Regions from separate parts of the Homo sapiens genome. Here region 1 is linked to region 2. Evidence: fine-mapped expression QTL. A gene starts in region 2. The other region holds a variant in brackets. All regions are shown on one strand. Distances are from middle to middle.

Region 1 (5,371 bases), 75 kb after region 2:
GCCAGTCACAGTGACAGGAGGGATGCTGCCCTGCAGAGAGACCGTGGAAGGCGTTACGGCAGCACCAAGTTGTCTCCCATCCTGAGATCCTCCAGCGCATGGACTGGCAAGTCCAGCCTGTGGTGAAATGGGCAGACTTTCTAGGAAGAGAACTTTCATCATCTAAGTCAAGGTCACCACCATGGGCCTGGGCCTTGACTTTCTCTTCTCTGGGGAGGAAAATCTCTCCAAGGGGGCTTCTGTGTGAACAGCACTGTACAAATACATGATTGACATACAGACTTAAGACCTCTGAGGCAAGCGGGGAGCCCTGACCAGAATCCAGAGAACCTGGTCCCCAGCCACAGTGTAACCCAAGGAAAGTTCCTGGGACGGATTCAGGTTTTGCAGGGCTGGAAGCTTAGACCATTGAGGGCTGGAAGCTTAGGCCTCACTAAGGAAAACAATACACAATTATGAATACAAAATTAGATACAAATATGATCATTAATATATTAATAATCAAATGTGATTATTAATTTAGAAAGATAAAAAGAAATTGCAACAAGTTACAAATCTTGAAAAAACTGACAAATGCCATCATGAAATCCAGACAGATAACATAATATTTGTATTAACTGACACACCTCAAAAATGCTTTCTAAATTAAAAAAAATTTTTTTACGTTACTTCTGCTCACAGCTTTACATAAGCTGGCTTTTGGCTCCATGCATTTCAAACCTTGTCTTTCCTATGCTACACACACACCCCTGGTGCAGGCACCTGAGGCCACAGTTATACTGTGATACAACTTCTGGTTCTGCAACTTCATGTCACAAAGCGCAGTGAGCTGGCCCAGTCGGTGATAGGAGTGTTCCTGCAAGCCATTCCCTATCCTGGAAGTACGTGCATGGCCTGTGAACCATATAAATACATTCCACCAATCCCAAGCCAGAGTCAGATCCCCCCAAAATGTTCACCAGACCCACCGAGAAGCCAGAGCAGAAAAGGGTAGCAGCTGTGATTGACAGTAGTTAAACTCTATTATTCTACAGTGTTTTCATATCTGACCATGTGAACACATTACTAGGGCCCTAAAGGAATCTGAAGCTTGAGCTGTGTAAGTGTCATGGTATTAAACATCCCAAATATGCCTCTGGGACTCCTCTGACTTTGTGTCTTCATCTATATAATGATCAAAACAATTCTGGCATATGTATCCAGATCCTTTTAGGTGAGAATCAGAAATGGACGAAAACATAAAGCCTCTGGAACCTAGAGGCGCTGCCTACAAGGTCAAGATGACAACTGTGAAGACCACAGTGATGCGGGCTCAGCAGGAACTGCTGAGACTTCTTTGGTTTTAGGGGTCAGCACTCCTGCGGGGTCTAATGTCCTGCCAAATGCTCACTCTTAGAGACGAGAAACTCCAATACGAGAACTTTCAAGCTTAAGGCTTTGATCCTAGTTAAGGGACATCTCTCTGGAAGGCATGGCACGTGAGGCTGTAATCAGATATCTGCTACCTTATAAGAATGAGCCCATCTGGTCATTAAATCAACACTTACTGAGTGTACCCCTAGAGCCAGGAGGCACCAGGCTAGGGCCTGCAGGTACAAATCGAAAGGGTCGGAGCCCAGTGTCTAGAAGAGGAGACAAGTCAGACACATGCCTAAATAGCCACAATTCTAGACAAAGGGATGAGACCCATGGGCCAAGTAGATGTCTGAGGCAGTGGGAGACCAGAGGAGGCCTGGTCAGGGAAAACTGGGGGTGCCTGACCAGGCCCTGCTGAATGGGAAGCCTTAAACAGGTGAAAAAGGGGGGCACTGGGTACTTGAGAAAGGTGAAGGTTTTCCAGTGTAGAAGACACTTTCATAAAATTTGATAAGCACATTTGTGAGTGACACATGGGCCAGAAGAAATGCCGGAAGACTTGGGAAGCCAGCAAGTTTAGCTCTGCTCATTGCACTTTCTTTTTTTTCCTATCTCTCTTAGTTTCCATACCTTCCACCCCACTGCTCCCCAGAGAGAAATGTGACAATGAGCTTCAGCTCTGTCGAATCCGGACTACATGGAACCTCTCTGGGTTGGCTTCTCAACCGATTTCAGAGTTGTGAGCTGAGAAAGAACAGCAGGAGAGAGGCCACAGTTATTCAGGGGACTCCTGCCTTGCTGGGGGC[T/G]TCCGCAGCCCCTGACCAACCATCCTGGTGTCACTGCTGAGACAGCAGCCTGAACAAGGGCAATGGGACCCCAGAGACTGCATCTGTACAGGCGGAGCCCCAGGGCTTTAGACCCTTTGCTCCAGTGATCTTAGAGCCATAATATTATCATCCAAAATGATGAGAGAGTAAGTGGCAAGCATACCTAGACATCTTCTGAGCCCAGCAGACAGAATTTTGGTTTAAGGAGAACCTGGGTAGTATAATGACACATAATATTTTTTTATATATAGGCATCACAGTCTATGAATTGTACTGATTCATCTCATCTCAAGAAGATGGTATTTTAGATGTATGTGTATATATTTGAAGCCAAAACTGTTTATTTTGTGTAATTTTTTGTGCCTATTAGTTTCTGAATATCTGTGCATAAAAGCTTCTGTTTCTCTGCCTGCACACATTTGTGGGTACACACTATACACCTATGTGGGGTAGGAGGGGGGAATGGGCATATTTGTTTGCATTTACCTTGTGTTTGGTCCTAGGAAGGGATCTTGGTGATCATTCCAGCCCAGCTCTTTCACCTCAATGGTGAAGAAACTGAGGTCCAGAAAGGCAAGGTGACTTGTCACAGGTAACACAGCTGGCTATGGAGACAGAGGTGACACAAGAACCTAGGATTTCTGATTTGTAGATGAGAACTCTTTCTATAATATTAAAATCAATTATAAATTTTGGGGAGGGAAGCAGGGAGATCCTTGTTTTTTCCTCCCCCAACTGATAAGTAAGTACTAAGAAGGTCAATCTTGAATTAGCTATATAATACCAAAAGTTAAGTTTTTCACACAGACCTGGTTCAGTATTGATTCCTTTTATGAAAACCCTGTTTATACTCAAGTTGTCAAAGAATTCCAGAGGGCATATGAAGCCATTGTTAAAATAATTTTATGCCTTTGTTTTTGAAGAAAAGTATCCAAAATATATAAGCTTATTGTTTGAGTTAAACAATAAAAACATCTGCTGTTTCTCAGGATGGCTCTAGTCTTAATATAACATGGCAAAATAATACCCCCTAAATATCCATGATTAACCTGAATTGGAGAGGGCTCAGCTCCCAGTGACTTCATATAGCTGCTTCAACTGGCATTGTTTAAAAAAAACAAAAACAAAAGCACAAAAGCCAAAATACAGACAGATCATCACCCAGCATTCTGATGCAAGAAAATATTAAAACTGATCACTGCTTTTAAATGGGTAGTGTGTCCCTACTAGAAAGGAATCCCACAAATTTGAGGCTTAAAAAAATGGAGCATATGCATAGGTGCCAATGCAGAATTTCTGGATTGGGTTCAAATCACATTGAAGCACAGGTGTGCCTGTCATTAGGTGTTTATGTTTACCTGTACACATGAATGTTTGCCTGGGCAACTGTGTTTGTTCTCACTCTGGCATGAATATATTTGTGTGTGGGTGTGAAGTTTTCCATATAATTTTGGGAACTGTCCCTTCTATCAAAATATAGCCCCTCTAAAATGTCAGCTGGGGAGGGGACTGTCAGGGTTTAAGGTGGGCGTGGGGTAGAACACGCCGCCTGACTCTCTTCCCCGGCGTTTCATTTTTCCCTTGGGATTTCCTGGCATGCTGGCTTGCCCACCCCAATACAACTCCTGTCGAAGAGGAGACTTCTAAATACATCTGAGCCAACCTGTCATTTTCAAAGACATTTCCCTAGATACTAAGGAAGAACAAAATCAATGGGAAACACAAAAAGCATGAGGCCTGACCTGCCTGTTTTTCAGGTCCTTCTTTTGTTAGCCATCTCTCCAGGCTCTTCCGCCTCAGTGTGCACCTTCCGTGTTTCTGCAGCCCCTTTCCTGGATTCCCAGCTCCTTGGCTCTGGCTTTGTCACAGCATGGAAGGCACAATATCGTCCCAGCATTCCCCCAGTGGAGCTGTTCCCTCCTCCCAGTTCCCACAGGTCAAGGTCCTTGTGAGCAAAGCTGTTCCCATTCATGGTAGTTACCTGTGCTCACTATGCGTCAGCCATGGGGCTTGTCTTATTTAATCCTCGCTACGACTTTCCAAGGCAGATGCTGGGGATGTCCCCATTCCACTGGTAAGGAAACTGCAGCTTGGCACACATACATTTCCCAGGCACACAGCTGGCAAGTGGCAGAGCTGGGCTGAGGACTCATCTCCTGCTGTTTCCAAAGCCAGGCTCTTAACCATGACATTAGAAAGCTTCCTTTTGCCAGAGGGGGTCCCCAGGTCTGCTCTCCCCAACTGACCACCCGTTTATTTCCACGTATATGTCTCCTCCCGGGACAGCCAGACTGCAGTCACCGGCACAATGAATGACCTCGCCCTTCGGGTAACACACATGTTGTGGTTCTTTAAAGCCCCCTGTGTATAACTAGCATAAAGCCTCCTACACTCAGGTTGTAGGAGGTACTTGGGGTGGATGCAAAGAAGAGGGTCCACCGCTACTTCCAGCGTGTGAGGCACGGAGCAGCTGTGCCGCTACCCCAGGCCCACTCAGATCCCCTCCCAGCAGACAGCAGCCCCTTTCATCCTGTCTGCCTTAGCGGTTTATTTTAGGCATGACCTGACCAGGTGCTCTGGGTCAATAGGCTTAGTTTTAAATAACTGGATTCCTCTCAATGACCGTTCCCTTTAGAAGGGAGGGGGCATGGTAGAAGAATAAGCCAGCAGGCTGAGGGCGGTGAGAGATGGGAGCTAAGACAGAAGACTGGAAACGTGAGGGCTCTGTCACTCCCTGCGTGACCTCGGGGAAGGCTCATGGCTTCCCCACTCTGGGCCTCAGTTTCCTTATCTGTAAAGCAAAAGATCGGTCTGGGTCATCTCAAACACCCCCTGCAGTCTGTCCCCCCGTCTCTGTTCTATGCCTGTGTTTCCAGATGACAAAACACCTCCTGCAAATTGTTTCAGGGTGGTGATTTTGCATGAAGAGCTGAGCCACCGAGGGATGCTGCAGCTTATAGAGCAAGCTCTGCTCTGGAGTCGGGAGGCCTGGGTTCTAGTCTTGCTTCTGATACAACCTTGGTGGCCTTGAACAAGTTAAGCCCCGATTTTCTCACCCGTTTAAAGGACGAACCTTGAAAACATTATGCTGAGTGAAGTAAGCCAAGCACAAAAGGATACATACTTTATGATCTCACTTATGAGGTACCTAGAATAAGCAACTTCATAGAGACAAAGTAGAATAGTGG
Region 2 (5,371 bases):
CTGCTAGAAGGGAGATGTGACTCACCCCAGAACAAGCTTGCGTGCTGCTTTGTAGCTGTAACACCCCAAATTCTTCCAGCAGTACCCTTGGATGGAACGTGATGAAGCACTATTTGAGAGTTAAGCCATGGCGGTTTCTCATGCACATTTAGTTCCTGTTATCCCTCTGCAGCCTGGGCTGGTCAGCATTAGGTAGGGGGACCTGGGAAGTCACTGGGCCAAACACTTCAGAACTCTCTGGCTGGAAATGGGGTTGAACCAGAAGGTGGCTTGGCTTTGGAGTTCTGAACTATCCTTTCCCAAATAGGCTTGCAAAGCCTGGGCTTGACGTGTCATCACTAGTAGGTGCTCTAAAAAGCACAGAGAGATGGCCAAAAGGCAGGATTCAAGGGCATTTGGAGGGATGAATGTACCTGCCTAAGGACATGGGCCTAGAAAGGGATGTGGTTTTAAATCTGCCACCTAGAATACATGAAAAGGGAAAACGACAGTTGGAATGCTGTCCTCAGTTTATAGAGGAAAAGACAGGAACGGCAAAGGGTTAGGCACGCAAATAGGCAAGATTTGAGTCTGGCTTTGGAGAAGGAGCTTTAGCATTCACAGGAACCCCAGGGAGTTCAGGACTGGGCCAGAGTGGCATCCATTCAGCCAGGTCCCATGATTAAGGGGCCAGAACTATCCCCTGAGGGGAGGCTTTTTGGGTGCTCTTTCTCAGTAGCTATTTATGGTTCCCCTACTGGTTCCAAAGTCTTCTTGAGTTCATGTATATTTCCTGCCTTGGGGTTTTGAGACCTGACCTTTTATTAAAATAATTAGATCATCTAGGGCAGAGCTGGAAGAGACCTCAGGATCATCTAGTCCATCTCCCTATTTTCCCAAATGAGAAAACAGGCCCAGAACTGAGGGCAGCAGAGGCAGGGCTAGGTTTCTTCCTAGCAGTACCCATCATCCCCGGCTTGGGGTTTGTAAGGAACTCTCCGTGGCCCTACCTAGGCTTGGACAATCACAGCCTTTCTCAGTAGCTCCTCCCTCCACCCGGCTCGGCCATACACACACCTTGACTGAGGCTGGACAGCCTCCATCTCAGCATGGCTCCTGGCTACTGACACTTGTGCCTGGCCTCTGCCCCTTCCTACAAGCTCTGCCCCTAATAGTAAGAGCCAATTTCTTGAGCACTCACTATGAGCTAAGCCTCCCATGGGGTCAGTCTCTAATCACCATTTTCCCACGTGAGGAAATAGACTCAGGAGCTGAGTGCAGAGATATGCTCCAAGTCGCGTCACAGGCAGGGTTGCCGAGCCAGGATTTATTTACATCTTCACATTCAAAGTTCGTCATCATGAATTTTGACTCTTGGGGACTGGGCTGAGGACGGGGTGGTACTGCTCCTGGCAGGGCCAGAGGTGGATGGGGCTTGAAAAGGGGGTTCAAGGCAGCAGATCTATGGTTCAGGTAAGGACCATCCCCCCAGCTCCCCACCTGGCTCTAGCTGAAAATGACAACTACAACTGGAGCTGGCTCCTGCGCCCACGACACAGCCATTCATGCTTTTGGTGCACATTCCCCTTAATTACCAAGGCTCCCAATTAACGTGGGCTGCTGTGTCTGGTGCTGGGTTATTTTCTCCTATTTTTCCGTTCCTCGGGGTTTACTATTGCAGAGAGACACCAGGTCTGTCATTGTGCCTGTCTTGCTCCCTTCCCACCCTAACCAGAGGGAAACCGAAAAGCAACAGCTGATGGCAAATCCGCTCCGGCGCTTGCACGCCTCCTCGGCGGCAGTCTCCTGTTGCTTCTCGGAGCTTGACTGCCCTTTGGAAAAATCTCTCCGCCCCTCGAGAGGAGAGAGGAGCAGAGGACGCGCGCGAGCACAGAGCGGGAGGACGGACAGGGAGAGGAGGAGAGGGGGTCTGCGCGCGGCCGCTACCCAGAAGCCAGCGGACGGCAGCACGGAGTGGGCTGTCCCCGAGCCCAGCCCCGAGCGAGCCCCCCCCCCGCCCCCGCAGGACGCGCCTCCCAGCCAGCCCGACTCCTAGGAGGAGGGGAGGCGGGAAAGCAGCTCAAGCCTCACCCACCGCCCTGCCCCCAGCCCCGCCACTCCCAGGCTCCTCGGGACTCGGCGGGTCCTCCTGGGAGTCTCGGAGGGGACCGGCTGTGCAGGTAGGCGGCTGGGGAGGTGGGCAAAGTTGGCTCCTTTTTCCGAGGAGGGGCGAGGCTCGGTGGGGACCGATCTCTGGAGCGCCGGGAGCGCCGGGTTTTGTGTGTTCAGTGGGTGTGTGCGGTCCTCCGCGGTCAGCTGCGCCGCGGTCCCCGCCTGGGCAGCGGGAAACCGGGCTGGGGATGTAAACAAGGAGATCGGCGTCGGAAGAGAGAGGAGCCTCTAGGGGAGGCAGGCTGTGGCGCTGGGGGTGACGCTGGTGGCTGGGAATTGCTCTCGGTGCTGCCTTGAGCTTGGGGTCAGGGTTTTCAGGAGAAGGGGAAAGGGCTGCGCCCACCCTTTATCCATGAGGAGTTTTCCCTTTGTTACTTGGAAGCTGTGGACACTTGGTGGAGCGTGGGGAATTACGGACGAGGGCGTGTGGCTGGGTGTGAGTGTGGACTTATGAGCGACACAAAATGGAACTTGCTGGTTTGGTGCTTGGGGAAGGTGGGGCTGGGCAGTGGGCACAGGATGGGGGCGCAGGGAAAGAAGGATTCTAGCGCTCGGGGATTCATGAGAGTGCATCATTTTTTCCCTCCTTCTTGTCTTATCCATCCAATCCTGTTTCCTTTCCGGGGGGCCCTGGGGTCCGCCATTGCCCCCTTTCCCCAGCAGGGCTGGCCCTGGCAGAGCCTCCCCTATTGTGTCTCCCGGGCTTCCGTGGAGAGTTGGGTGTGCAGCCTGGAGCTCCCAGCGCTGGCTTCTGGCTCTTACAAGTGGTGGCTGGTAGAGGAGGCACCCGAGGGTGGGAGCTGGGAGCAGCCTCGCTGGAAACATGGGTCTGCCGCGTCACCTGCTGCAAGCCTGCACGCTCGCGGGACCGTGGCTACTGGAGGCTTCTCCCCACCAGTGTGCTCTCTGCCACTACTTCCTTTGTCTCTGTGGCTTCGTGCTGTCTGGCTGGGCTAAGATTTCCAGCTTTGAAGATGGATCAGTGGGCATCTCAGGCCCTCTCTGAAAGGAGCCCCCTTTGGGGATCCAGCCACCCTCATATTATGGATGTGTATGTCTACGTCCGCAACTTAGCCTTTTGCACGTGACTTGCCTGGTCGTTGCCATGGAAACTCCTCCATTTCTCAGCCTCCCTCTTTCTCCTGCCCATTCCTCACCTCCATATCTCCTCCCCTCCCCCCAGTATGGTTGCCTAGATACTGGTTATCCCTGGCTAGGAGACCTAGATATCTGGCTCCTACACCCAATTGCAGTGGCCCCTTACTCACACCACCCACTTCACACACACTGCACATCACCAACACCACAAACACATACAGACATATACCACACTACGCAATCAACACACCCTCACACTCACACCACACATACATATACATCATACCTATACACACATACACACCAAACACACCGCATATATACCGCACCACCACACACCAGCTACAATGCTACACTGACACCCTACATGCGCACTGTGCATGCACACACACACACACAGTACATCTAAATAAGTCTCAGGCTGGGCTGAGGCAGGGGAGAGAGAGGGCAGTTTCCTTCCTTATCCAGCCACCTCCCTAGGGGTGTGGAGGGGAAGAGATGGAGGCTCAGGAAGCCCAGAAGGAAAACCCTAACATCTCCCTGGGAACCCTGCAGAGGAAGGTGGAGGGAAAGGCACTGCCAGATTCCCTCAAAAGAGGAGCCCCTTCCCTAAACCTGGAAGGGAAGGTTGGATAAAGAGTGGGCGCAGCCCTTTTCCCTCCTCCTCAAAGCCCCAGTCCGGAGCTCCAGGTGTTAACGAGAGCCATTCCCAGGTGCTGGGCTCCAGAAGCTGGGCACTGACCAGAATTTCAATCTCTCCACTGCCGCTGCTCTTTTCCCTGACCCAGAGAAAGCCTGAGGCTCTGGGAGTCATCCTCACCAGCAGAGGATCAGGCCAGCTCTGGGACCATCGGAGGCTCTGAGCCCTAACAAAGGAGAGAAGGAAAAGTGGTTACTGTCCCAGGAAAGCCAAGGAGGCCAGGCCAGGGAGGCAGGAAGGGGAGGGAAACCAGAAAGAGGGAAGGAGAGGGGCCACAGGAGTCAAGAAAGCGAAAGTTAGGGCTACCCGCCGTTGCCTGGGGTTCAGGCCACCCTCTCTTCCTGGCACGTTTTCCTGCTTCCCCCCTGGCTCCTCCAAACAGATCTGTGCATCTAGGAGAGGAAGCGGGTGTGCAAAGGGCTCTAGGCTTGCCAGGGTTCTCCCAAGACGTGTGGCTTCTATGGTTGACAGACGGTAGGCGCCTGGGGGAAGCGTTTCCTTCCTGGCTTCCATCGGATCTTCAGACTGACCTGAGGACCGATTTCATTCAATCATTCAAAGAACTGTTTTAAGTGTCTACTGTGTATTAATTGCTGGGGACATGAAGGTGAGGAGGGAGACACAATCCCTGACATCGGAATCCTAGGTTTCTCAGAGCCGGAAGAGGCCTTGAGGGAGCATCCAGTGGGAACACAGTGGGGGAAACTGAGGCTCAGCAGTCACGTGGCCAGTAGTCGCTGAGGCCTTCTAACTCCTCGGCCAGGATTTTGGCCTTCACACTGCCTGTCCTGCAACCCTTGCTTTCTTTTCTCAGTCACCATCAGAGATGGTGGGTTGATGGAAACCTATGGAGGGAGAGCCTTTGGTCGGCTGGTGACTGGGACGCCCTTCCAAAGTGAGGGTCCCTTAGTGGGCGGGTACAACCGAGGAGCCTGCTTCACTATGTTTTCTTGGAAGGCGAGGCTGGAAGCTGTGGCAAGGAGATGGGGGAGAAAGGGCAGTTTCCTAGACCCTGGAAATTTCCCGACAGCCTCGGGGGAGTCCACCCACCGAAATCTCCCCTAAATAAGAGCACCTCCTCTCTTCCTCCCAACCTTGTTGGACTTAGTCGGCCGCCATCTGGATGGCAGACTGTGCCAGGCAGCCCCCCAATATTCACCTTCGAACAAATCACCTTCTGAGCACCCTAAGGGAAGCAAACCAGTCAAGAAAGGCACAGCCCCAAGGAGGCAGGGAGCCTGCTGTGGAAAGGCCGGGTTCTAGCCCCAGCTCTCCCCCTGAGCTTCCGTGCTACCGAAAGGCAAATGCGTTCATTGCACAAATATCCCTTTGGATGCAAACTGGGCTTCTGGTGAAATCCAGAAATGGCTTGGACTGCTCTTCAGCAACTGAAAGCCTTTCGGATTTTAGACCTTTGTTTCC

What was found. PIP is the estimated chance that this variant, and not a neighbour inherited with it, causes the effect. A credible set is the group of variants that fine-mapping cannot tell apart.
Region 1: its variant is the best candidate, but not a certain one, in a credible set for the expression of FXYD6 in blood mononuclear cells (TOPMed, PIP 0.58).

Annotation. Positions count from the first base shown.
Region 1 is chr11:117,798,642-117,804,012 of GRCh38, reverse strand. It overlaps a transcript of DSCAML1 not described here. Among named protein-coding and RNA genes, the nearest start is that of DSCAML1, 4.1 kb to the right of the region's middle. The variant T/G (reference allele first, on the strand shown) is at 2,163.
Region 2 is chr11:117,873,380-117,878,750 of GRCh38, reverse strand. It overlaps FXYD6 (FXYD domain containing ion transport regulator 6), which reads left to right and starts at 2,093. Exons shown (of 8, transcript NM_022003.4): 1 at 2,093-2,159. It overlaps FXYD6-FXYD2 (FXYD6-FXYD2 readthrough), which reads left to right and starts at 2,093. Exons shown (of 10, transcript NM_001243598.4): 1 at 2,093-2,159.